2 linked regions of the Homo sapiens genome follow. The protein of the gene in region 2 interacts with the protein of the main gene of each other region in a pairwise test. Each region holds a gene or a part of one and is shown on either strand. Other genes may lie near its edges.

Region 1 (5,524 bases), on a different chromosome or scaffold from region 2:
TTTCAGCTGTTCCTCATCCTCGATGACAGTTGGTATTACTATCAGATTTTTTTTTTATTGTAGTCATTTTTCAATGGGTGTAAGTGATATCTCACTGTGGCTTTAATGTGCATTTCCCTGATGGCTATGCTGAACATCTTTTCATGTGTGTATTTGATATCTGTATATCCACTTTGGTAAAGTGTCTGTTCAAGTATTTTGCCCATTTTCAATTGGCTTGTTTTCTTCCTGTTGAGTTTTGAGATTTCTCTGTATATTCAGAACACACACTGGATATGTTCTTTGCAATATTTTCTCCTAATCTTAGCTTGTCTTTTTTATTCTCTTAGCATCATCCTTTTGCAGAGCAGTCATTTTTAGTTTTGATGAAATTCAATTTATCAACATTTTCTGCTATGGATCACGCTTTTAGAGTAAAAAGTCTTTGCCCAAGTCCAGGTGATGAAGATTTTCTATGATTTTTTCAAGGAGGTTTATAGTTTTACATTTCACACACTTAGATCTATGATCAATTTTAAGTTCAGCTGTGTATGAGATGTGAGGTTGAGGTGTTGTTTTTTAGATATGGATGACAACTATTCCAGTAACATTTGCTGAAAAGACTGTCTTTTCTCCATTAAATTGATTTTTGTACCTTTGTTAAAAAAAACCCATTGACCATATTTGTAGAAATCTCTCGTCTCCATTCCATTGACTTACGTGTCTGTCCCTTCACCACATTGTCCTGATTACTGTAGCTTCAAAATCAAGTAGTATAGTTCCTCCAACTTTACCCTTCTTTTAAAAAATTCTATCAGCTACTCTAGTTCTCTTAGTCCATTTTTGTGTTGCCAAAAAGGAATATCTGAGGCTGGGTAATTTATAAAGAAATGAGGTTTATTTGGCTCATGGTTCTGCTGGTTGGGAAAGTTCAGGATTGGGCATCCAGTGAGGGCTTCAGGCTATTTCCCCTCACGGTGGAAAGCAAAGGGGAGCTGGCACGTGCAGAGACCACAGGGTGGGAGCAGAGGCAAGTGGGCGTGCCAGGCTCTTTTTCACAACCAGCTCTTGTTGGGACCTGAAAGAGCTAGAACTCACTTATCTACCCACGAGGAAGGGCATTCATCTATTCATGAGGGATCCACACCCATGACCCAAACACCTCCCACTAGGCCCCACCTCCCAACACCACCACACTGAGGATCAAATTTCAACATGAGATTTGGTGGGGACAAACCATAGCACTAGTTCCTTTACATTCCATATACATTTCATAATGAGCTTATCTATAAGAACAAATCCTGCTTGGATTCTAATTGGAATTTTATTAAGTCTACAGATCAATTTAAAAAGAACATACGTCTTTACTAGGTTGAGCCTTCTTATCTCTCCATTTATTTAGGTTTTCTGGGGTTTCTTTCATTATCATCTCATCATTTTCAGCATCCAGATCACATTTTGTTAGATTTCTAAGCCTTTCATATTTTTGAAGCTACTGTGATATTCTTTAATTTCTAATTGTACATTGCTAAGATATAAAAATGACTTCTGTATGATGACCTTGCACTCTGTGATCTTGTTAAACTCACTTACTAGTTTTAGGAAATTTTCTCATAGACTCCTTAGGATTTTCTGTAGGTTTTTTTGTAGATGTCCTATGTCATGTTAAATTTCCTTCCCTTTCTAGTTTGCTGAGAATTTTATCATGAACTGATGTTGAATTTTGTCAATTTTTTTCTGTATTGATATAATCATGATTTTTCTTCTTCAGACTGTTAATATGGTAGATTACACTGATTGATTTTCAAATATTGAACCAGCCTTGCATTCCAAGGATAGTTTCTTTTTTTGTTATGGTGTATTATTATTCCTTTTATATCCTGCTGGTTTAAATTTGCTAATGTTTTCTTGAGGATTTTTACATTTATGTTCATGAGGGTTATTGGTCTGTAGGTTTCATATTTTGTGTTAACATTGGTTTTGGTATTAGGGCAATGCTTACCTCATATAATGAGTGAGGAAGTGTTCCCTCTTCTTTTCTGAAAGTTGTTTAGAACTGGAGTTTTTTCTTCATTAAATGTGTTGATAGAATTCACCAGTGAAATCATTTAGGGTAGAGATTTACCTTTCAGAAGGTTTTTAAACTATTAATTCAATATCTTTACTAGTTATTGGACCATTCAGGTTATCTATTTCATGTTAGATGAACTGTGGTAATTTGCAGTTTTCAAAAGAATTGGTCCATTTCATGGACCTTCTTTGCTTCTCACTCTATGTATGTACACTCTATGTACATACATAGAGGGAGAAGAAAGAAAATGATAACTCAAGACTGTTTCAGGAATACAGTTGTTTCTTGGTGTCTATGGGGAACTTGTTCCAGGACCCCCGTGGATATTCAAATCCTTGGATGCTAAAGTCCCCCATATAAAATAACGTGGTTTTTACATACAGGCTACACACATCCTCCGACAGACTTTAAATCATCTCTAGATTACTTCTACCTAATACAATGTCAGTGTTATGTAAGTAGCTGCTATACTGTATTGGTGTGTTATTTGTATTGATGTTTATTGTTGTATTGTTATTTTTATTTTCTGATATTTTCAATACATGTAGGTTGTATCTACAGATGTGGAGCCCACAGATACTTGACCGTACTTCAAATTCTTGTCTTCTTCACCAGTCGATTGCTACTATGTCTTTGTTCCAGAGTCCTCAAATAGTTTCTCCCTGTCTACTCTCCAGGATTTATAGCTGCATTCAGTGGGAGACATGAAAGGAGTATGCCTTCTCCATCTTATCTGGAACTGAAGCTAGGTTACCACTATGTCTAATTTTTAAACACAAAATTGGAATCATACTGTACATACTCTGTACTTTTTTTAAAAACTAGCAACATGTCACCAACTTTTTCCAAAGACTGTTAAAAATCTTTCTAAAACATAATTTTTAATGATCATATGTATTGCTACAATTCTGTTGTTTCCAATTTTCTCCCCATTTTAAACGGTGCTGCCATGAACATTTTTTAACATAAATTTCTGTACAAATTTGATTATTTCCTTAGGATAATTTCATCAAAAAAATTTGGTGCCTGGTCTCTGGGTCCAGCTGCTGGGAAGGAGGACACTGCAGTCTCAGCACCCACCAGCTCCTCCTCCTTCCTCCTCCCCCGAGGTGAATGTGCCCTCAGAAGTGCAAGCTGCTGATTAACTATGCTGCATTTTTTATGACGTGAAAGTTCGGAAATGCTCCACGCCAAAAAAAAAAAAAAACAAGAAAAGAAAAAAGGCTGTCATTTTTTGTCCCAGTGCAGACAAAGTGCATTGTTGTAGAAGGAGGTGAAGAGACCTTGGTTGGAGATGTCTAAGTGTAGCCATAAGCGGTCCTTCAAGCATGTGGTGGCAATGTTTCCTGAAAAAGATGTCTCTGTACTTTGTATGAGGCAAGCTTTAAAACCAAGGAATCCAGAAGAGTTGATGGTTTTGTGTGTGTGCGTGTGGGCACCAGAACTAGCACCTCTGAAAAGTAAAATGATCTACATGAGCTCCAGGGAATGCAACCAAAAAGAAATATCAAGGCATAAAACATGAACATCAAGCAAAGGGGCCAGAAGTCCTCCCTTAGGCCTGTCCCACTGGGAAGCCAGGCGGCCTTGGTTGTGGCCTCTGCAGGGTGCCCTGTGTAGATCGTCCTTCAGTGCCACAAACTGAAAGTGCCCGTGTTTACGCTTATCCTCTTGTTGTGTAAATAAAGCAAATACATTTAGGCCAGAGTCTTGCTGAGGGGGAGCTGTCCCATCATCTACACCACACATTCTATAAATATGTGCAAACAGCCTTAAATACATCCGAAGTCTGAAGTGTTATTGGTATGAAATTAAATTCTTACTGGCCACGTGCCTGTTTTCATGAGCTGACTTATAAAGACTTTCGTTAAGCTCAGGATTTGTGATAATACAGTCAATAAAACAGTACAAGGCTGTGTGAAGAGAATTATTACATCTTTGTTAACCTCAGCAGTTACTTTGTTTCTTTTGCTTAGAAAATTCGTCATAATGTGGTTGTAATTTTGGTCCAAATTCTTTATTCTTCCTTGAGCTAAAGAGAATAACGGAATATAATATGTCCTCATCACATATTGACAGCACGAATACACTAACAACAGTAAGACTGAGTCTGGCAGTCTTTTAATTCTACCAAATGTGCAATGGAGATCCTCAGTGACCTTGCAAAGCGTCCTGAAAGGTCCAGGAGGCAGCCCCTGCACCTGCAGTGCCACTGGCTAGTGGGAGACTGCTGAGTGTGCAACCTGCTTCTCGGAAATCGTGGCGTGGCCTCAGGAGAACAAGCAAGATCCTGTAACAACTAATGATAACGCAAATTAGGGCTCAATTGTCACCTGCTTTGTTAACAAAAATGATTAAATGGTCTGTTGACAATCTAGGACACCTGTGGTATCTTTACTTGCGTCTCCTTCAGAACTTTGCTGCTTCTGGAAAAACAAAAAAATTTTAATGCTCTTTGACTTATTCTGCCCTATTTTCCTTCAAAAGGCTTTACCAATTTACACTGCCAAAAAAAGGGCATGGCGGTGCACACTTCCCCACAACCTCAGCATCGGGAGCATCAGATATTAGAGGATTGCTCAGCCAACTTCCCAGGTCAAAACTATTACAGTTACTTTCAAATTGTTGGTGGCATTGAACAACGTTCAAGCTCCTGGCCTCTGGCATTTCTCTGCCTTTCTAGTCCCTGCTCACCTTCCATGAGGTTACCTTTATCTTATGCTTTTCTTATTGCAACTCTTTACGTCACACAATTCTTTAGCTGCAATTCTTTAGTTGCATTTACCATTTAATAGTTTTTAGCTGTGCTAATGTATGAAGGGGAATTTTTTGTCAAGTATTTTATTTGACAGCTTCATTATGAACTTGGTTCTTAGAAAAACCTTTCCCATCCTAACAACAAATAAACTTGTAGCAATTTTTTTGTTTCCTCCTTTTCTTAAATATTTAACTCTTGAGCCCATCTGAGGTTTATTTTAGCAGATGGTGTGAAGAAGGGCCTCTTTTCTCCAAATCAGTCGTTCCAGCACCATCTCTGAACAACTACATGCCCTTGCTGCACTGACTGAAAGCTGCCCCTCCTATGCTAAACGCACATGCACTCTTCTCTGTCTTCAGACTTTTACTACATGTCAGCGTCAGAGTAGGAAGATGGGCCAGGAGAGATGAAGGCCTGAGGGCTGAGGGGCTCTGAGAACAGGCAGACAGCAGGCAAGGAGGACATGAAGAGGGACAGACGCACAGGTGCAGGGGAGAGGCAGACAGCAGGCCAGGAGGACGTGAAGAGGGCCAGACGCACAGGTGCAGGGGAGAATGCGGCAGCTCAGGAGAGGCGCAGCCTGGGGACGGAAAGTGAAGGTGGGTACAACCGCACCAACGACTCCCAGATTCATACCCTCCCTCCCTCAAATCCGACCAACCCTGTGCCCCAACAACTATCGCCATAGGAACTCTTGCAGCCCCGTCTGCCCTGTT
Region 2 (3,400 bases):
GGAAGAGCTGATGAGGTGAGATGGACAGAGTCTCCTTCCACTCTCAGAGGACCCAGCAGGATCATGGTAGGTTCTTGACACAGGGAATGGACCAGCTATATTCAAGGCCTTAGGGAGAAGGAGCCTTCTTTTGGTCCCCAGTTTTTACATCCTGTGTCTTCTCACAGATTAGTAACGGTCTGGAGAAAGGCAGCCAAAATTTGGTGTGTCTCTAATCTCTACAAAATGAGTAGCTGTCACTCACACAGAATCCTGCCTGTTTCCTGGATGGAGATCACATAGGAAATTTGGGGCCTATGTCCAAAGAAGTTTCAATCACCTTGAGTTCCTTGCTTCTTCCTGCAGCCACCTAACACAGTGCTTCCAGCCCTAGCGACTGGATCAAGCTTCAGGAGCCCAGAATTCGCCAACTTATTCCATCTGAAACACGGCAATAAGTGCAACATTTACAACCTGTTCATGACACCCTGTAATGGTATTAAAAGCACAAGATGCAAGTGGAAATTCTACACAGGGAGCATTTATTTATTTGTATTTCCAGTACATCAATTTTTAGAGAAAGCATTAGATATACACTTTTAATGAAATGAGGAAAAATTAATTGACAGTTTGACTAGATGAATTTTCATAAGTAAAAAGAAAACACCCAACTAATAAGCCTGTGATTTAAAGGTGAGATGCTACTTGGTACAAATTAGGATTGAATGTGTAGATATGGACATAAAGAGTGGAATAACCGACATTGGAGACTCCAGAAAGTGGGAGGCTGAGAAAAGGTTTAGGGATGAAAAATTACCTACTGGGCACAATGTATGCTTCTCTGGGTGTTAGGTACACTAAAAGCCCACATTTTACCACTATGCAATATACCCATGTAACAAAACTGCACTTGTACCCCCTAAATCTATTTTATTTTTTGAGATGGAATTTCGCTCTTGTTGCCCAGGATGGAGTGCAATGGCGCCATCTCGGCTCCCTGCAACCTCTGCCTCCCGCGTTCAAGTGATTCTCCTGCCTCAGCCTCCCAAGTAGCAGGGATTACAGGCACCCACTACCACGCCTGGCTAATGTTTTGTATTTTTAGTAGAGACAGGGTTTCACCATGTTGGCCAGGCTGGTCTCGAAGTCTTGACCTCGTGATCCACCCGCCTCGGCCTCCCAAAGTGCTGGGATTACAGGCGTGAGCCACCGCGCCCAGCCCTAAATCTATTTTTAAAAAAACAAATTTGTACTGAAGATTCTCCTTTTGAATGTGCATTAATTTTTCCTGATCATCTCTTGAAAAACTTCTGAGACAGCTAAGCTTGTTTCATATATTAGGTTAGCAATGGGGAAAGAATACAGTGATTTGAATTGAACTAAAGCGTACTCAGAGAAGTGCTCCCAGCAGAGTAGGTGCTACTTCTGCCAGTCTCTCCATCTTACCCTTCCATGAGGCTTATGTACAGAATGCCTATTTACTGCTGACCTTCTCCAGTATGGCAGTGCCATTCCTATGTGCTAAGAATGTATACACCGGGCATATCTTGATCCAAGTTTTAATAACCATACGTTCTGATCCTATAAATTACACATTATTCATTCTAAAATTTCGTAGAGATCTAGGAGTGCTCTGTGTCCTAAAATGTATCAGTGTTTCCAAACTGGGGGTGCAGAATCTTTAGGGGCACACAACCTGTCTCTTCCACTGTTGCTCTTCTCTTTCCTTATTGTTACAACTGTTTCCCCCCCTCTAACATGTCCTTATTCTCATGTTTAGATATCCTTTGCCCTCCCCTTCCATCCTTGTTAGTTTATCTTCTGGGAGAAATTTTAAAACTCTCAATACTTGTTATTATTGGTAATGATAAATAGGGAAAACCTGTCACACCTTCTGAAGTTGTGGAATGACAGAGAGGCAACCCTTTGTAAATCCACAGGTGCCACTAAAAAGTGTTTGTTTTGGTTCTTTTTGTTACATATGATTGCAGCAAAGGCTTTGATATATTTTTCAGTCTACAACTAAATTACTTGACCTCTCTGGATCTGTTACCTCTTCCATAAAAGGAGGCAGGTCTATCACTAACATCATATTAATTGGCTGACTGATTGATTCAATAAATATTTATTCTACTGATCCAAGTACTCTTAAGCTACTTCAGGTAAAAAAAAAAACCAATGATCTACATATTTGGATCGCTGAGAACCATAGTAATGACCTGTGAATGAAAATGTCTTTTAAAAAATATCCAATTAATAAAGCTCTACAAACAATACCATTATTCTTGCCTGTGGATTGCTATTCTCTAAGTGTTCACAACCACCACTGATTTTCCACTTAAGATGTTCTTTCCTTGGTTGCTTGCAAAACAAAATGGTTCACAAGAATGACCTATGAAAAGTCATTACAGAAGCAGAATGAGCATAACAATAGAATGCCTTTGTGTGGCCCTGTGCTCCTACATGCACTGTTTTGTTTCTTCCTCATATTTTCACAATCCTCTGAGAAGGTGCCATCTCCCCAACTTTACAACTAAGAAAACTCAATATTCTCTTAACATACGTGGATTAGAGTAACTTCCTTTTCTCAATTAGTTCCCATAACTCATAATACATATCTCAACTGTGTTACCACAATTAGGAATTATATTAAAATTGAATCAAATGTGAAAACATTCTGTCCTCTCATTTTAAATATTTTATGCATGCTGCCTTTGCAAAGCATATGCTATGGAAAGAACTGGTATTAAGAAAAGATTAGTTCTTTATATATAGTGGTTTAAACTTCTAATTTTAAATCTCAGTTAAAATGATTAAAATATGAGTGAATTTACTTTTGATTTCCACAGTTTTAACCTGGCATGCATGGGCTTGACTGTGAACATGGTAAAGCAGCTGCATGAACATCATTTAGGACACCACTCCTGCTGTTTCCTTTAAAAGGCTGACAGGGTCCTAAGTTTCTCCAGCAAAGGGGTGTCTGTGTGTATGTGCATCTACTGTACGTAGGTTACTGTAAATCTATCTGAATTAGGGCAGTTGCCCTGCTGGCCAAAATTAACTCAGGAAACTATTTTAAATAGATAAGTTCTAGGACAGCTGTGTGACATGATTAGAAACATTATGGCTTAAGATTAACTATAATTGTATTAACTATTAGAGTCAAAAACTAAGGACTTATAACAACCCTTTGCTGTGATACATTTCTTACAAATTTCTGAAACATTAGATTCTCTCATTTAAATATGTTTAACTCTTTAATTTTCCATCTAGTGCCTATTAATGTATCTAAAAGATACACAAAACTATTGTACTAAAGAGACATGTCATTAAAAAACAATTTGGCTACTAAATTTTGTTCAAGAACTTTACTCACTACTGGTTAGGAAAAAAGCTTATCATTCACTATCCTACACAAATA

The links. Proteins that work in one complex are often made in the same cells at the same time.
Region 1: the proteins of MYO6 (region 2) and PRMT2 interact in a two-hybrid assay, tested with the Homo sapiens proteins (one large-scale study listed by BioGRID and IntAct).

The regions. Positions count from the first base shown.
Region 1 is NC_000021.9:46,651,670-46,657,193, reverse strand, and holds part of PRMT2 (protein arginine N-methyltransferase 2), read right to left. Parts: intron 5,389-5,524; coding exon of another isoform or gene 5,188-5,388; exon of another isoform or gene 4,350-5,187; coding exon of another isoform or gene 4,140-4,349; exon of another isoform or gene 2,097-4,139; intron 1-2,096. UniProt on the Homo sapiens protein: Arginine methyltransferase that methylates the guanidino nitrogens of arginyl residues in proteins such as STAT3, FBL, histone H4. Acts as a coactivator (with NCOA2) of the androgen receptor (AR)-mediated transactivation.
Region 2 is NC_000006.12:75,916,638-75,920,037, reverse strand, and holds the end of MYO6 (unconventional myosin-VI), read right to left. Parts: 3' UTR 501-3,400; downstream 1-500. UniProt on the Homo sapiens protein: Myosins are actin-based motor molecules with ATPase activity. Unconventional myosins serve in intracellular movements. Myosin 6 is a reverse-direction motor protein that moves towards the minus-end of actin filaments.